2 linked regions of the Homo sapiens genome follow. The protein of the gene in region 2 purifies or fractionates together with the protein of the main gene of each other region. This does not show direct contact. Each region holds a gene or a part of one and is shown on either strand. Other genes may lie near its edges.

The links.
Region 1: the proteins of PBXIP1 (region 2) and B3GAT3 purify together in Homo sapiens (affinity purification with mass spectrometry; 4 studies listed by BioGRID and IntAct, with this or other methods). This does not show direct contact.

What each region holds. Positions count from the first base shown.
Region 1 is NC_000011.10:62,618,967-62,626,017, forward strand, and holds the start of B3GAT3 (galactosylgalactosylxylosylprotein 3-beta-glucuronosyltransferase 3), read right to left. Parts: upstream 3,021-7,051; 5' UTR 2,982-3,020; coding exon 2,900-2,981; intron 2,854-2,899; exon of another isoform or gene 2,150-2,853; coding exon of another isoform or gene 2,089-2,149; intron 1,706-2,088; coding exon 1,531-1,705; intron 1-1,530. Other genes in the region: GANAB (neutral alpha-glucosidase AB isoform 3 precursor), read right to left, coding at 6,849-6,958. UniProt on the Homo sapiens protein: Glycosaminoglycans biosynthesis. Involved in forming the linkage tetrasaccharide present in heparan sulfate and chondroitin sulfate.
Region 2 is NC_000001.11:154,953,080-154,960,056, forward strand, and holds the start of PBXIP1 (pre-B-cell leukemia transcription factor-interacting protein 1), read right to left. Parts: upstream 3,021-6,977; 5' UTR 2,990-3,020; intron 679-2,989; 5' UTR 643-678; coding exon 592-642; intron 1-591. Other genes in the region: PYGO2 (pygopus homolog 2), read right to left, coding at 5,700-6,767. UniProt on the Homo sapiens protein: Regulator of pre-B-cell leukemia transcription factors (BPXs) function. Inhibits the binding of PBX1-HOX complex to DNA and blocks the transcriptional activity of E2A-PBX1.

The DNA.
Region 1 (7,051 bases), on a different chromosome or scaffold from region 2:
AGTGAGACTCCATCTCGGGAAAAAAAAAAAAAAAATTAGCCTGGTGTGGTGGTGCACGCCTGTAATCCCAGCTACTCGGGAGGCTGAGGCAGGAGAATCGCTTGAACCCGGGAGGTGGAGGTTGCAGTGAGCCAAGATCACACCACTGCACTCCAGCCTGGGCAACAGAGCAAGACTCCATCTCGGTGTTGCGGGGAGGCGGGGGGAAGAAAAAAAAAAAAGGAACAAACCAGGAATGTGGAACGTGGGGCTTGGCCTCTTCTGTACTTCTTTATCCTTCAGATCTACCTGCCTGTCCCAGGGCTGGTTGTGTGTGCATGTCGCAGGTGGGGTCTAGAGCTTCCTATGCGTGAATGGGACAGCCATCTGATTCCCAGAAGATGTATTAACACCCTTATGGCTACAGATCCAAAACCACATTCCCCAATTGGTTTTATTAGTAAAACCAATTACATTTGATTTAAAACAAAAGCAAATGTAAATCACTAAATACAGTGCCTGCTAGAGAGTAAACACACTGTAAGTAACAGCTGGTATAACTATTTCTGGACCCTAGTATGACTATCAGGCCAAGCACTTTCAACTTTTTTTTTTTTGAAATGGGCTCTCTCTGTCGCCCAGGCTGCATGATCTCCACTCACTGCAACCTCCGCCGCCCAGGATCAAGCAATCTTCCCACCTCAGCCTCCAGAGTAGCTGAGATTACAGGCATGCACCATCACGCCTAGCTAACTTTTTTTTTTTTTTTTTTTTTTTTTCAGAGACAAGAGTTTCACCATGTTGCCCAGGCTGGTCTCAAACTCCTGAGCTCAGGCGATCCGCCAGCCTCGGGCTCCCAAAGTGCTGGGATTACAGGCGTGAGCCACTGCGCCCAGACAAGCCCTTTCAACTTTAATCAGGGGGTTTTAACTTTCTTGCCAAACGGTCCCTAAGGAGAGAGAGTTAATTCACTGCCAAGCTCAAAATTTCTTTGAAATGTTATTGTTCTATCTTATAATTTGGTAGAAATTTTGTATTTTCCTTCTAGAAAAAGAACTATTTTTTTTCTTTTTTCTTTTGTTTTGTTTTGTTTTTGAGATGGAGTTTCACTCTTGTTGCCCAGGCTGGAGTGCAATAGCGCACTCTCAGCTCACTGCAACCTCCGCCTCTCAGGTTCAAGGGATTCTCCTGCCTCAGCCTCCCCAGTAGCTGGGATTATAGGCATGCGCCACCACGCCTGGCTAATTTTGTATTTTTAGTAGAGACGGGGTTTTGCCATGTTGGCCAGGCTGGTCTCGAACTCCTGACCTCAGGTGATCCACCCGCCTCGGCCTCCCAAAGTGCTGGGATTACAGGCGTGAGCCACCACACCCAGCCTGAAAAAGAACTATTTTCCCACAAATATTTGAGTATAAATGTGGTTCATTTATCCTGTCTTTGGCATGCTCTAGTTTGAGGAACAACTCCTAGCCCAGTGCCTCCCCAAACTCCTCATCATCAACTCCAACTTCTTGGACAACGCAGACCTCTTGAGTGCACCAGAGCCCATACCTGGCATAGGTGGGGGTAACAACATAGATAGTAGGCAGGGCCTCGGGTTCAGGGGGCTGGGCAGGGGCAGGGGGTGGCCGTCGGAGTTCCGCTTGCAGCTGGGAAATCCTCAGATCCTTCTGCCGTAGCTGCTCGGCTGCTGCCCGCAGGGGAGGAAGGCAGTCACATGGCTGGCCTGGTCCCAGGAAGCATTAATGGGGAAAGAAGGTGGGGACAGAGAACCGCAGAATGTTCAGCATCCCAAAGGGCCGTAATCGTCTCATTAATTCCTAACCAATGCAGGTATCACCTTATGACTTCCCTAGTAGCCTTTTCTATACCTCTCGTGTGGGAAACTCACTGCCTCAAGCAGCAGACCCTCTCCAACTTTAATAAATTCCATTGTTACAATTTTATGTTGGATATTGAGCTGATTCCATCTTTTCTACCTGCTGGTCCTAATTTTGCCTTCTGGGCTTCTAACAAGCTCATGTCCTTAAACAGGACAGTCTTTTCAGAGTCCAAGGTGCCAACTAACCATTACACTATGGAACCCCTTTTGGACAGTCTTTCAAATACCTGAGGATAACGCAGTGGCACTGTCCCTAAATCTTTGCATAAGGGGCAGGGTTCGATCCATTCCCTTGGCTAGGTGACCAAAGACTCATTGTTAAATTCATTGATTCCATCGTAGGATAAATATTTATTGAATACTCTTCCTAGGAGGCACTGCCTTAGGTGCTGGGGATACAGCAGGGAACAAAACAGACACAGTCCCTGCCCTCATCGAGCTTTCTGTTTAGTGGAGGAAGCAGACACTAAGCAAAGAAACAAATTAATAACATTATTACAAACTGTGATGGGGCCATGAAGAAAATAATCAGGATAGAGAATAAAAGGGAATGGAATTAAGAATGGTAACTTTAGCTATGGTGGTCAGGGAAGGCCTCTCTGAGGAGGTGACATTTGAGCTAAGACCTGAAGGATGAGAAAGAGGCAGCCCGGGAAACGCTGGAAGCAAAGCACCCCAAGCAGAGGGAACAAGTTAAGTGCTTGAGAGAGTAATGAGCGTGGGGTTTTCGAGAAACTGTCAGCAAGCCAGTCTGGCTGCAGCAGAGCGAGGGAGAGGGGTGGAAATGGGGTTGGGAGAGGCGGACGGCAGCAGGATCATGCGGGGCCTTGCAGGCTCTGGGAAGGAGTCTGGATTTCATCCGAGGTGCGGCGGGTAGCCGCGGTGCGTTCTATAGAGGGCAGTGCGCCTGAGGCCGCAGAGCTGTCCGGAGGGCCGAGCGGATGAATGGTGTTTGCCGGGGGTTCATCCCCAGGGCGGGATGCACGGCGGCGGGCGCCCTCGGGCCAGCCCGCCGCACCCCCGCCCCGCCCCGCTCACCGAGCTGTACCAGCGCGTAGAGGAGGCCGGCGATCGACACCAGGAAGTAGGCGAGAAACACGTTCTTCAGCTTCAGCTTCATGGCCGCGCCGCCGCCCGCGCCCGAGCAGGCGGGGTCTGCAGGGGACGAGGGGTTCCCGCCCCAAACCCCGGCTCCTGTCCGCAGGCCCCGCCCCTGCAGCGGCTCCGCCCTGCGTCCCGCCTTCCTCGCACTCCCCTACCAGCTCCCAGCTGGGGCTGGCAGCGCCGCCAGGGCACGCTTCCGGTCATCTGTGCACCCCCCCGCCTTGTAGACTTGATTTCCGGTCCCACCGCCAGGTTCCGGGAACCACCGGGTGGTGACGTCACATCCGGCGTGCCAAACTCGCGTGGCCGGCAGTCAAAACCCCGGGTAGGTGCAGAATCTCGAGTAGGTGCACGTGGTACCTACCTCGAGACCCGCCCCCTCATCACGGAATTGCCTGAGAAAGCCAGTCCTGGCGCCCAGATCTTCACCTTATTCATCCATCCAGTCAGTCACGCCACCCAATAGCTGTTGCTCAATACTTATTACACGAATGAAATCTAAGGCCCACCACATGATCCTCTGGGTGTCTCTCCTGGAATCCTCACTATAATACTTTGAGATAGATAAGAAACCAAAGTTGACAAAAATTATGTCATTGCCACAGGGCAGTTTTGTGTCCTTTCTGGACACCCGATTCCAGCATCTCTAGTGTGTCCTCTGGCCCACATTTCTTCAACAGATGACAACAGGGGTGCCAAGGAAGTGTTTTAACTACCAGGAAATTGATTGGAAATAGTTCCTGAGCTGGGGAATTCCATGAATGCATCCCCTTCCTCCTCACAAGCACAAGCCATCCTTCTCATTTTTCCTTTAAAAAAAAAAAAAAGGGCCCGGCCCAGTGGCTCATGCCTGTAATCCTGGCACTTTAGAAGCCCAGGAGTTTCAGATCAGCCTGGGCAACAAGGCAAAACCCCGTCTCTACAAAAAAAACACAAAAATTAGCTGGGTGTGATGGCGCGGGCCTACAGTCCCAGCTACTTGGGAGGCTGACATGGGAGGCTGAGGCTGTGGTGAGCCGTGATCATGCCACTGCACTCCAGCTTGGGTGACTGGGTGAGACCGTCTCAAAAAAAAAATAACCCCCCAAAAAAAGTTTCTGGTAAAATAATCTCTGACTTGTGGTCAGTCTACAAAATGAGGGGAAGGGGGAACAGTATACTTCCTGTCACTAAAACAATGGGAAACTTTAAAAAGTGCTGTTAGCAGCTGGGCGCGGTGGCTCACGCCTGTAATCCCAGCACTTTGGGAGGCCGAGACAGGCGGATCACGAGGTCAGGAGATCGAGACCATCCTGGCTAACACGGTGAAACCCCGTCTCTACTAAAAAACACAAAAAAATTAGCAGGGTGTAGTGGCGGGCGCCTGCAGTCCCAGCTACTCAGGAGGCTGAGGCAGGAGAATGGCGTGAACCCGGGAAGCAGAGCTTGCCAAGAGCCGAGATCGCACCACTGCACTCCAGCCTGGGCGACTGAGGGAGACTCCGTCTCAAAAACAAAAACAAAAACAAAAGTGCTGTTAGCTACAAGCAGAAGCCTCTAGGTTGGGCACAGTGATCGATGCCTGTAATCCCAGAACTTTAGAAGCCTGGGAGGTCAAGGCTGCAATGAGCCAGGATCATACCACAGCACTCCCCGCACTCCAGCCTGAGCAATAGAGCGAAACTATGTCTCCTCAACCCCCGACATCCTCCAAAAGTTTAGTTTGAGAAACAGCTATCTGACCTTATGGCTATTTCTATCCAAGAGGGACTCCATTGGCTCTGATCACCACTTACTAACTAGGCCTACTAAAATGTGATGATCTTGCTGGGCTCTTCTACGAAAATATCTAGCAACCCAAGGAAGGCTTGCACTTGCTCATTTTGCTGAAATCAAGGATGCTCATGCTGGCCGGGAACAGTGGCTCATCCCTGTAATCCCAGCACTTTGGAAGGCCGAGGCAGGTGGATCACTTGAGGCCAGGAGTTCGAGACAACATGGTGAAACCCCATCTCTACTAAAGATACAAAAATCAGCCAGACGTGGTAGCAGGTGCCTGTAGTCCTAGCTACTTGGGGGCTGAGGCAAGAGAATCGCTTGAACCTGGGAGGCAGAGGTTGTAGTGAGCCGAGATCACACCATTGCACTCCAGCCTGGGCAACAGTGAGACTCCATCTCAAAAAAAAAAAAAAAAAACCCAAAAAGGATGCTTATGCTGAAGCCAAATGAAAATGTAAGGCCCATGGCCAGGCATGGTGCCTCACGCCTGTAATCCCAGCACTTTGGGAGGCCAAGGCGGGCAGATCACCTGAGGTCAGGAGTTCAAGATCAGCATGGCTAACATGGCGAAACCCCATCTCTACTAAAAATACAAAAATGAAGCTGGCCATGGTCGCAGGTGCCCGTAATCCCAGCTATTAAGGAGGCTGAGGTGGGAGAACTGCCTGAACCCAGGAGGCAGAGGTTGCAACGAGCCAGGATCACACACTGTACTCCAGCCTGGCGACACTCTGTCTCAAAAAAAAAAAAAAAAAAAAAAAGACCCAGGGCGCAGTGGCTCACTCCTTTAATTCCAGCACTTTGGGAGGCCGAGGCAGGCGGATCACCTGAGGTCAGGAGTTCCAGACCAGCCTGGCCAACATGGTGAAACCCCATCTCTAATAAAAATACAAAAATTAGCTGGGCATGGTGGCGCATGCCTGTAGTCCCAGCGACTCGGGAGGTTGAGGCACGAGAACTGCTTGAACCTGGGAGGCAGAGGTTGCAATGAGCCCAGATCATGCCATTGCATTCCAGCCTGGGCAACAGAGTGAGACTCAGTCTCAAAAAAGAAAAAAAAAGGAAAGCAAATGTAAGGTCTCTAGGCTTCTAGGGTCTGTGGCTCAGGCTAGAACTAGAATCCAGACTACCACCAGTTATTTATGGTTTATCCCTTTATTGTTTCTCCTTTGATCAAAACGTGTCACAGCTGGGAACCAAGAGGAAGTAAAAAAAATACCCACAAATATTCCCCGACTCCCCATTAGTCCTCCCCCAACCCCCCACCCAGGGCTTCCAGCCAACCCCGAGCACACATGATCATCTCCCCCCACCCTCAGGCTTCTCCTAGCAATAAATACAGGTGACCATGATTCACTGAAACCACAACTGATTTCTCCATCTTAAGTGCCCCTCAAAGGGGACAAGAAGGGGGCAAAAGAAGTTTAATGCGCATCCCCTAAGAGGTGTGGAAACGTCTTTCTGCCGAGGGACAGAGGAGGTAGAACTGCCCCTCTAAGAATTGCAGCAGCTCTACAAGGAATCGGGGAGAGGAAAAGGGTAGAATGAGAGGGAAAAGGATGTTCTTTAGCAACCTCACTCCTTTGATCCATTCATCCTGTCCGGGGTAAGGGGTGGTCCCAGTGTATCGGTGGGGCATAAAAAGGGGAGTAAAGCCTGGAGGAAGAAATGAAAGGTGGGAGAGCAATCTGGTGGGAGGGAAGGGGAAAAGGAGCCCTAACTCATTGCCCTCATCTTCTTCCAAGAAGTGGCATCAACATACAAGAGGCATGAATGGATAGACTCTGGGGGAGTTCAGGGCTCCTAAATAAGGGAAAGAGAAGGGGCGACAAGGGCCCTGTGGTTTCCTGGTGTTCGTAAGTGAATGTGCTCCAGTTAGAGCAACAGGATGTTGGGGGAATGAAGGGAAAGAGTTGGTATCAATGGAGTGGGAGAGGTGAGGAGATCACAAGAGGAATTTGGAGCCCAGGGTCAGCCCTCTCATCCTGCCCAAATGTTGGCAGAATCTGGGTCTTAGACTAGCATAAGTGAAGTCTGGGGAGGGCCGAACTCCAAGGCAGAAGAAAGAATATCTCTCAGCACTAATGCTCCCCTTCCCTCCCCCTAACCCAGAACATCCCTTGGGTTATCGCAGGTGAATACTCCAATCAGATGCCACATTGATGCCAGGCTTGCGCAGGACCAACACAGAGGTCTCAGGGTCATGCTGGAAGGACAGGCGGCTTTCTGGAGATCCTGGAGGAGGAATAAAAGAGTGCCATAGTCATACCAATGGGCTATAGCATAACAACAACGTTCCTACAGGCAAGGGCATCCCTAAACCTGCCC
Region 2 (6,977 bases):
GCCCCACCAGCTGCTACCTGGACTGCTGCAGGGGGTCTTTGAAACACTCTCTCCCTGTTCCCACCCAGCATGCACAGTGGCTTCACCCTCTGCCTGAGACAATGATTGTCCTGATCCCTCTAACCCAAAGCCCCACACTGATTTCCCATCAGGATGAGGCCTGAAGGCCTCAGCCAGGCTCTTCCGGTCTCTTCCAGGGGTTCCCAGGCTCTGTCCCCAACCTCACTCCAACACTGGCTCCAACCCACGTCTCCACATCACCCATGGGTGTCCCACAGTCTCCCCCAGCATGGCGTTCCCCACTATCGCCTCAGGACCTTTGTTCACATTGGTCTCTCCATTCGAAATCCATCCCTACTTGTCTCAGCTTACCCAACTGGTCCCTTCCTTCATGGCATGGTCCAAGTGCCAACACCTGACCCCTGGGGCCTGATCTACTTCTTCCTGCTACTGGAATTCCTCTAACAGCCAGCAGGAAGTGATGTAGGTGACCATCAGGACTAAGGAAAAGGACCCACCAAGAAAGAAGCCCAGCACTGCAGAAACACCCCCCAACCCCACCCCCATGGTTCCCAGGCCCGCTCTTCCTACCTCGGAGCCAGCAAGCACCCAGCTATTATCAGAGTCTGGGCAGGAGGCCATAGTTGCTGAGGTCCCTGAGGCTGCTGTGGCTGCCACCTGCAGAAGAAAGCTCTCTTAAGGATGGGAGCTCCCTTCAGGAGGGGCAGAATGCAGAAAGCAGCCTTGGCTGGGTTCCAAGGTTCAAGTGCTGGGCAGCAGCCTCCAGAACCAAGCCTGGTTCCAGTCCTTCTCTCCCTGACACCCCAGCTCTTCTAAGCAGTATTTGCCTTGCAAATCAGAATCTGCCAACACCCACAGAGAAGCCAGCCTCTTCCAGGGACCAACAGGGCCTTGGAAAACTGAACTGACCTTGAAAGGTCAAAGTAGCATAGGCTGGAAAGGCTCTGGGGAATTCCAGTCCAGCCCCCTGACATTTGAGTCAGGGAAGATGAAGCCCAGCAAGGTTGACAGACTCAACTTGCCAATAAGAAGACTTGTTAATAAGAAGAGCAGGGAAACAACACAGCCCTCCCTTCACAACACCAGGTACCTACACAATCACTACCTTCTCCCCCAGGACCTGGAAGGGAAGACTCAATGGCCTCCTTCAGCCCTAAGTGTCCCACCACTTGCCCAGCATAAGTCCTTGGTATGGTCTAGTTCAGTGGTTCTCAATCTTGGCTGCACATTGGAATCACCTAAGATTTTGATTCAATTGAGTTGGGGGGTAGGCCCGGCTGTGGGTCTTTTAAAAAACCACTCAAATGATTCTCATGCGCAGCCAGGGTTAAGAGCCACTGGCATAGCTTAGATCCACCTGGATGCACCTTTTATAAGTCTCCTCATCACTCTCAGTCTTCATCCTAAATTCTGTTTACCTTCTTAGTAATCGCCAGAGTTTGGTCTTAGGGAACTTGAAGGTGACTGGGAAAATGGATTTATGGCAACTATCATGTATATATACATCACTTTATAGCTTGCAAAAAATAGACAAAAATCAGGGCTATGGTCCTGCACCCGGTTAATCTGCTCTGACTTGACAGGGATAGGGGAGGGAATCACTCCAGTTTCCAAAGCCTGACTGACACAAAGCAGGGTAAGAAGAGAGGGATCCGCCCCTTCATCCAAGGCTAAAACAGTTCCCTCAGGCAGCTCCTGTTGGGACCAGGCATAAAGGTGGAAGGATAGATGAGCTGACCTCTCAAGAGTACTGGATTGTGATCCCTCAGAACAGGATAAATGACTGCTTCCCGAGCACTTTATAAGAAAACTCAGGAAAAGGGAAGTGAGGCTGGGAGAGTATGGCAGTTCTACCTTTGAAACCAACCACATTATCCCCTTCTGTTTGAGCTGTTTTCAAGTCCTGCGTGGTGCCCTAAGTAACCTCCTGTGGCTCCTGCCAGTCAAGATCCAAGTCCTGGATAGGTCTTTCCCAATGCCCATCCTCCCAGACACATGCACCCATTCCACACGGAGACAGGAGAATGGCTGCAATGACCTCCCTGTACCAAATCCAACAGGACACCCTGGCATGCATCTGTAAGTATCCATAGAGCCATGGCTGTTCAGCCTTCCGCTTGTGGCTCCACCCCCGCCCTTGTTATCATCTCCCCATCCCCAGTTGCTGACTGTTAACAGGTGGTGGCAGGAAGGAAGTGGCAGCAGCTTGGGCTGAAGTCCCTGTTTATCCCTAGCTGTGTGTGCAGCCTGCTCAGGTCCTCTAGAACCAGGCACCATGGCAACCACAGTGATGTCAGACCCACTGTCTCCATGGAAACCAGCAAAGGTATTTGGGTCAACAAAACAAATACTTATGAGACCCAAATAGGAGACACTCTGAAACTCCTATACTCTGGGTTCCAAACCCTGATACCTCTTTCTTGGTTAGGTTAACCCAGGGTTCAAAAAAACACCTCTTCTCCCAAGCCAGCATCTCACTGCCTTATTAGGAAGTTCCTTCTGCTGTCTAATCTCCACCCTTCCCTGCTGTGTTTCCAGATCTTTTTCTTTTCATCGACCTTCTGGAAGAAAACCCACCTCCACTCCCTCCCTCCACCCCCTTCTTTTCATTCAGGCAGGATTCAACAAACACCTCCTGTAAGGATTATGACAGAGACTTCTGCTATTTCTAAAAAACAGCTAAAGGGGGAGCTCTCCCACTCAGCATAAAGCTAGGAAGTCTCGCCTCTAGTTAATTTAAACTCCTCTAACAGTTGCTCCTCCAAACCGCTAAAGCAAAGGATCTAGGGCCACTTGCCTGGGGTACCCAGAGCAAGTTCCTGTTGTGTTAGCGTCGGCACCTGGCCTTCCTCCCCCAGCCCAGAAATGAAAAGCAGCTCATTCCTTCTAGATTAGTTCCGCCTTCCCTTTTCCTTATTCCACCCCCTTCAAAGCGAATCTGTGGACCCCTTCCCAGCTAAGGCATTACCTGAACCAGCTCTTGCTTCGGTCTTCAGCTTAACTTGTTGCAGGCTTCCCTTTGTTTGCAGCCCGAGAAGAAAATCATGTGACCAGAAACTGACCAATGAAAAGTCAACTTCCCCAAGGGGGCGGAAACTTTTGGCCAATAAGAGCAGGAATTGAGAGCCAGGGGAGGGGAAGGGAGGTCTAGCGACACGGCCCTAAACCTGGGCTTACCTCCTGGTGGGCGACCGGGGTCCCAGCTAACCGAATCCTGAGTTTCCTGCCCTTCTTTCCCAGTGTCTAAACAGTTTCTAGAGGGAACCCCCACAAACTGAGAGAAAAGCAGACGGTGCCGTCTTCTGAGATGACGAAGACAAGGGGCCAGGTTGGCCCCAGGATAGACAGAGACAGCTGTGAGATGGGGGAAGGGAGAGGGACAGGTCGCAAATCCAGGGTGTGGAAATAGCCCTCCTGCCATTCTCCCCAATCTGCTCCAAAACAGACTGCTTAAAAGATGCCATTGCTACTTTAAAAAACGGTTGGGGGACGGGAACGATCTGAAAAACATCCCAAAATGAAATTTGCTAGGACAGAAGCAGCCCCTCCCCTCACCCTTAGAGCGACACTTGCTCCCTAACCCAAACAACTGGGAGGTGGGTGGGGTGCTAAACCCAGAAGAGCTCAAGCACTTGTCTTCCAGAGGCTGTGGTGCCAAATCCGCCTGGCTCCAGGCCTGGCCCAGGAATATGCTCAAAAAGGAAACTCAGTTTCTCACAGTGGAGACACAGGGGGATGGGCGGGGAAACACAGGCCTCCCTTGGCTCAGCAGCTTATACCAGGGTCAGCTCAGGGGCCAAATCTGCCATTCCCACTCCCAGGGACCCTGGGGAGCATACATATCCTCAACCCCTAAGCACCCTACCCAGCAGTGACAGCGGCTCATTCCAGCCTTTTCACACAGCAACAGCAAGGAGTCCTTGTCTGGGATTTTAAAATCATTTTATTAATCCAACAGTACAAAAGACCCCCACCACCACCGCATTCTGCCATCACTTTGTTCCAAAAAGTAGTGGAGTGAGAGAGCGAGAGGGAGCAGATCCAGCAAAAACACTCCCCCAGGGGCCATTTTACAAAATGCGGAGCAGGGGAAGACAACACAAAAACAGCAACAGATAAATGGGGCAAACAGAACAACAAACACAAGAGTTGAGCAGCGGGGTGGGGGTGGGGGGTTGCCATCTACGCCGTTTTAGTGTGAGGGACACTGGGAACGATGCCCAGAGGCTGCTCTCCTCCCAGCCTCAAAGGTTGTCAGCTCCACCAGAGCAGGGTCTTCTCTCCTCATGCCAGGAACTGAGAGAAGTGGGGGTAGGGGACCACTAGGTCTTTGCCACTGTATCTTGAGCTGGGGGACTCCTAACTTCTCCGAGGGCCACACCCCATGCCTGCCTTCCCCACCCCATGGAGGAATGTGTGCATGAACAGAAAAGGAGAACGAGCAGCGCTAAGGTCCTCATCAGGCCCCAGGCCCATCTCTGGCAGGCAGTGCTTAAAAAATAAAAAAAGACAAATAAAGCCCAGTGCAGGCCTTTGGCTGAGAGGAATGAGAATTGCTAATTAATCACCAGGCCCAAGAGGATATGAAAGAATAGCAAAGAGAAGCAACAAACTCCAGGCTCTTCTACCTTTGAGTACCATGGCAATGAGGATCCCGCCGCATCCCCTACCCACAGGCTGTGACAGGGCCTCACTTGGATCCTTTTATCATGGAGGAAATGAGGTATAGGGCTCTGCGCCTTTTCAAGCTTTCCTTCAATCAAGCCAGGAAGGCAGGGGAATAAGGGCGCCGAAAGTTGAAGAACACACGGAGTATAATGTGCAACAGATGGGCTGGGGGAGGAGGGTACCACCAAAGTCCAGACTTTCAGGACAGCCCAAACTTCAAATATTCTGGTCTGTCAGATAACATATCCCAATTTTTGGCAAAAATATGGTCATTAGGAGAAAAGCACGAGAGAGGCTGAGAAAGGACCAGTGACTTTGGTATGAAGAAGATACGTCCTGACAGCATCTCTCACCTACTGTCTTGAAGCCCCAAATCACCAAGAAACTGCCATAACCAGGAACTCTCCTGCTTCCTCAGGCTATTTGGTTCTCTGAGGGGGAAGGAGTTGGGTAAGTCTTGGAGGAAGCAAAGGAGTGGGTAGAAAAAGGGGAAAATCCCCATTTATTCCCTAAAGCTGTCTCCCAGAGCCCATAAAAGGGCTATTGCAGGGATGGCAAGACCCCAATTCCTCTGGCCAGAAACCTTTAACACTTGACTCCAAAAACTAAGGCTGGAGCTGTGGGGTTCAGTAGGGGTGTTAGGCACAGGTGTTAGGGGCATCCATCATCAGCAGAGGGAACACCCCTGCCCTCCGGATCTTCCTCCAGCCCCTTTTCTCTTGCAGCCACACTCCTGGGCCTCCAGAAATAGCCACAAAATGGCTCTGCTCAGCAGGGCTTTGGTTTCCTGGATCTCTGTAGATCTCAACATGTAAGTTTCCCAAAACAGTGAGCAATCCAGGCTCTTCTGCCTGCCCACCTCAATTCCTTTTCTGCTCCCAGGAGCCACTGTTTCTGCCCCATGGGGATGGAAAGCCAGTGGAAACAAGGACCAAGAGCCAAACATCAAAAAAATCACCCTGGAAGAGCAGGGAGAGACATGTGCACTTCCCTGGGCCACTTCACCAGCGTCACCCATCGTTAGCAGCCACCAGCTGCCCCATGCCCTCACGGATGTAGACAGACTGGATCTCCTTGGTCTTGAGGCAGAGATCGCAGGCCCAGACGGCAGAAGCTTCAGTGGTCAGCAGCCCATAGGCGCTCTCAGTCATGCCTGTGCACTCACGGTGGAACCATTTCTGGCAGGAGGCCTCACACAGAATGGCATCCTGGTCATCGTTCACCTCACTCCGACAGGCACCACATGGGTACACCAAGCCTGGGGGAGGCTGGGGCCCGGAGCCCCCACCTGCCTTGCCAGGGGGTGCCAAGCTGTTGGCATCTGGAGTGCCCCCACCCCGCCCACTGCTGTTCGGGGGGAAACTGGGCTGGTTCCCATTAACAGCAGCAGCCGGGGAGCCTGAGTGGGGCTCCTGGGGAAAAGCAGTAGAAGCAGGTGGATTCAAGGGCTTCCCCCCATCCTCACCACCAGGGCCAGGAAAGCCAGGGTCCGGACCAGGAAAGGGACTTGTGTTAGGCGGCAGGCTGGGGAGCCCCTGACCAGGTCTCTGGAGAGGAGAAGGGCCAAAAGGAGCCCCTGGCTGAGCAAATCGTTGGGACAGAGAAGGTGGGCCCAGCTCTGCTCTGGGAGGCTGTCCCATGGTGGGTGAGATCATGGGACCAAATCCCCCCACTGGGCCCGGCATCATCTGCCCACTGGGAGGACTAAAGTTTTGACCCAGAGGCTGGTTGAAGGGTTGGCTGGGAAAGTTCATGTTGCCTGGGGGTGGGTAGCCAGGACCCTGGGGGGGCATGTTGAAAGCAGGGCCCATAGGATTGGGAGGGAAGGGGGGTGGCTGTCGACGGAGTGGCTGGGGGCCCCCTCCACCTCCAGTGCTGTAGCCTGGGGGTACCTGGCCCGCCATGCCCCCCTGCACACGGAAGCCTCCGAAGGGCACAGGACTGCCAAGGAATGGAGGGGCTGCAACCCCCACTTTGGGGGCTCCGAAGTCATCTTCAAAAGGGTTGGATGCAACCAGGTGATCCACCATGGGAGTTGGGGGTGGTGCAAACTCCGTCAGATGTGAGTATGCAGGGCCCTAGTGAGAAACAGTTGAGGGAAAGAGGGTCATGGAGGGAAACACAGAGCTAAACCAAGAGAGCACTACCAACACAATACACATTTTGGAGGCTGATACTGTGGGCAGCTCAGGTCTAAAATCAATATGGACCACAGGCCAGGTGCGGTGGCTCACGCCTGTAATCCCAGCACTTTGGGAGGCCAAGGCGGGCAGATCACGAGGTCAGGA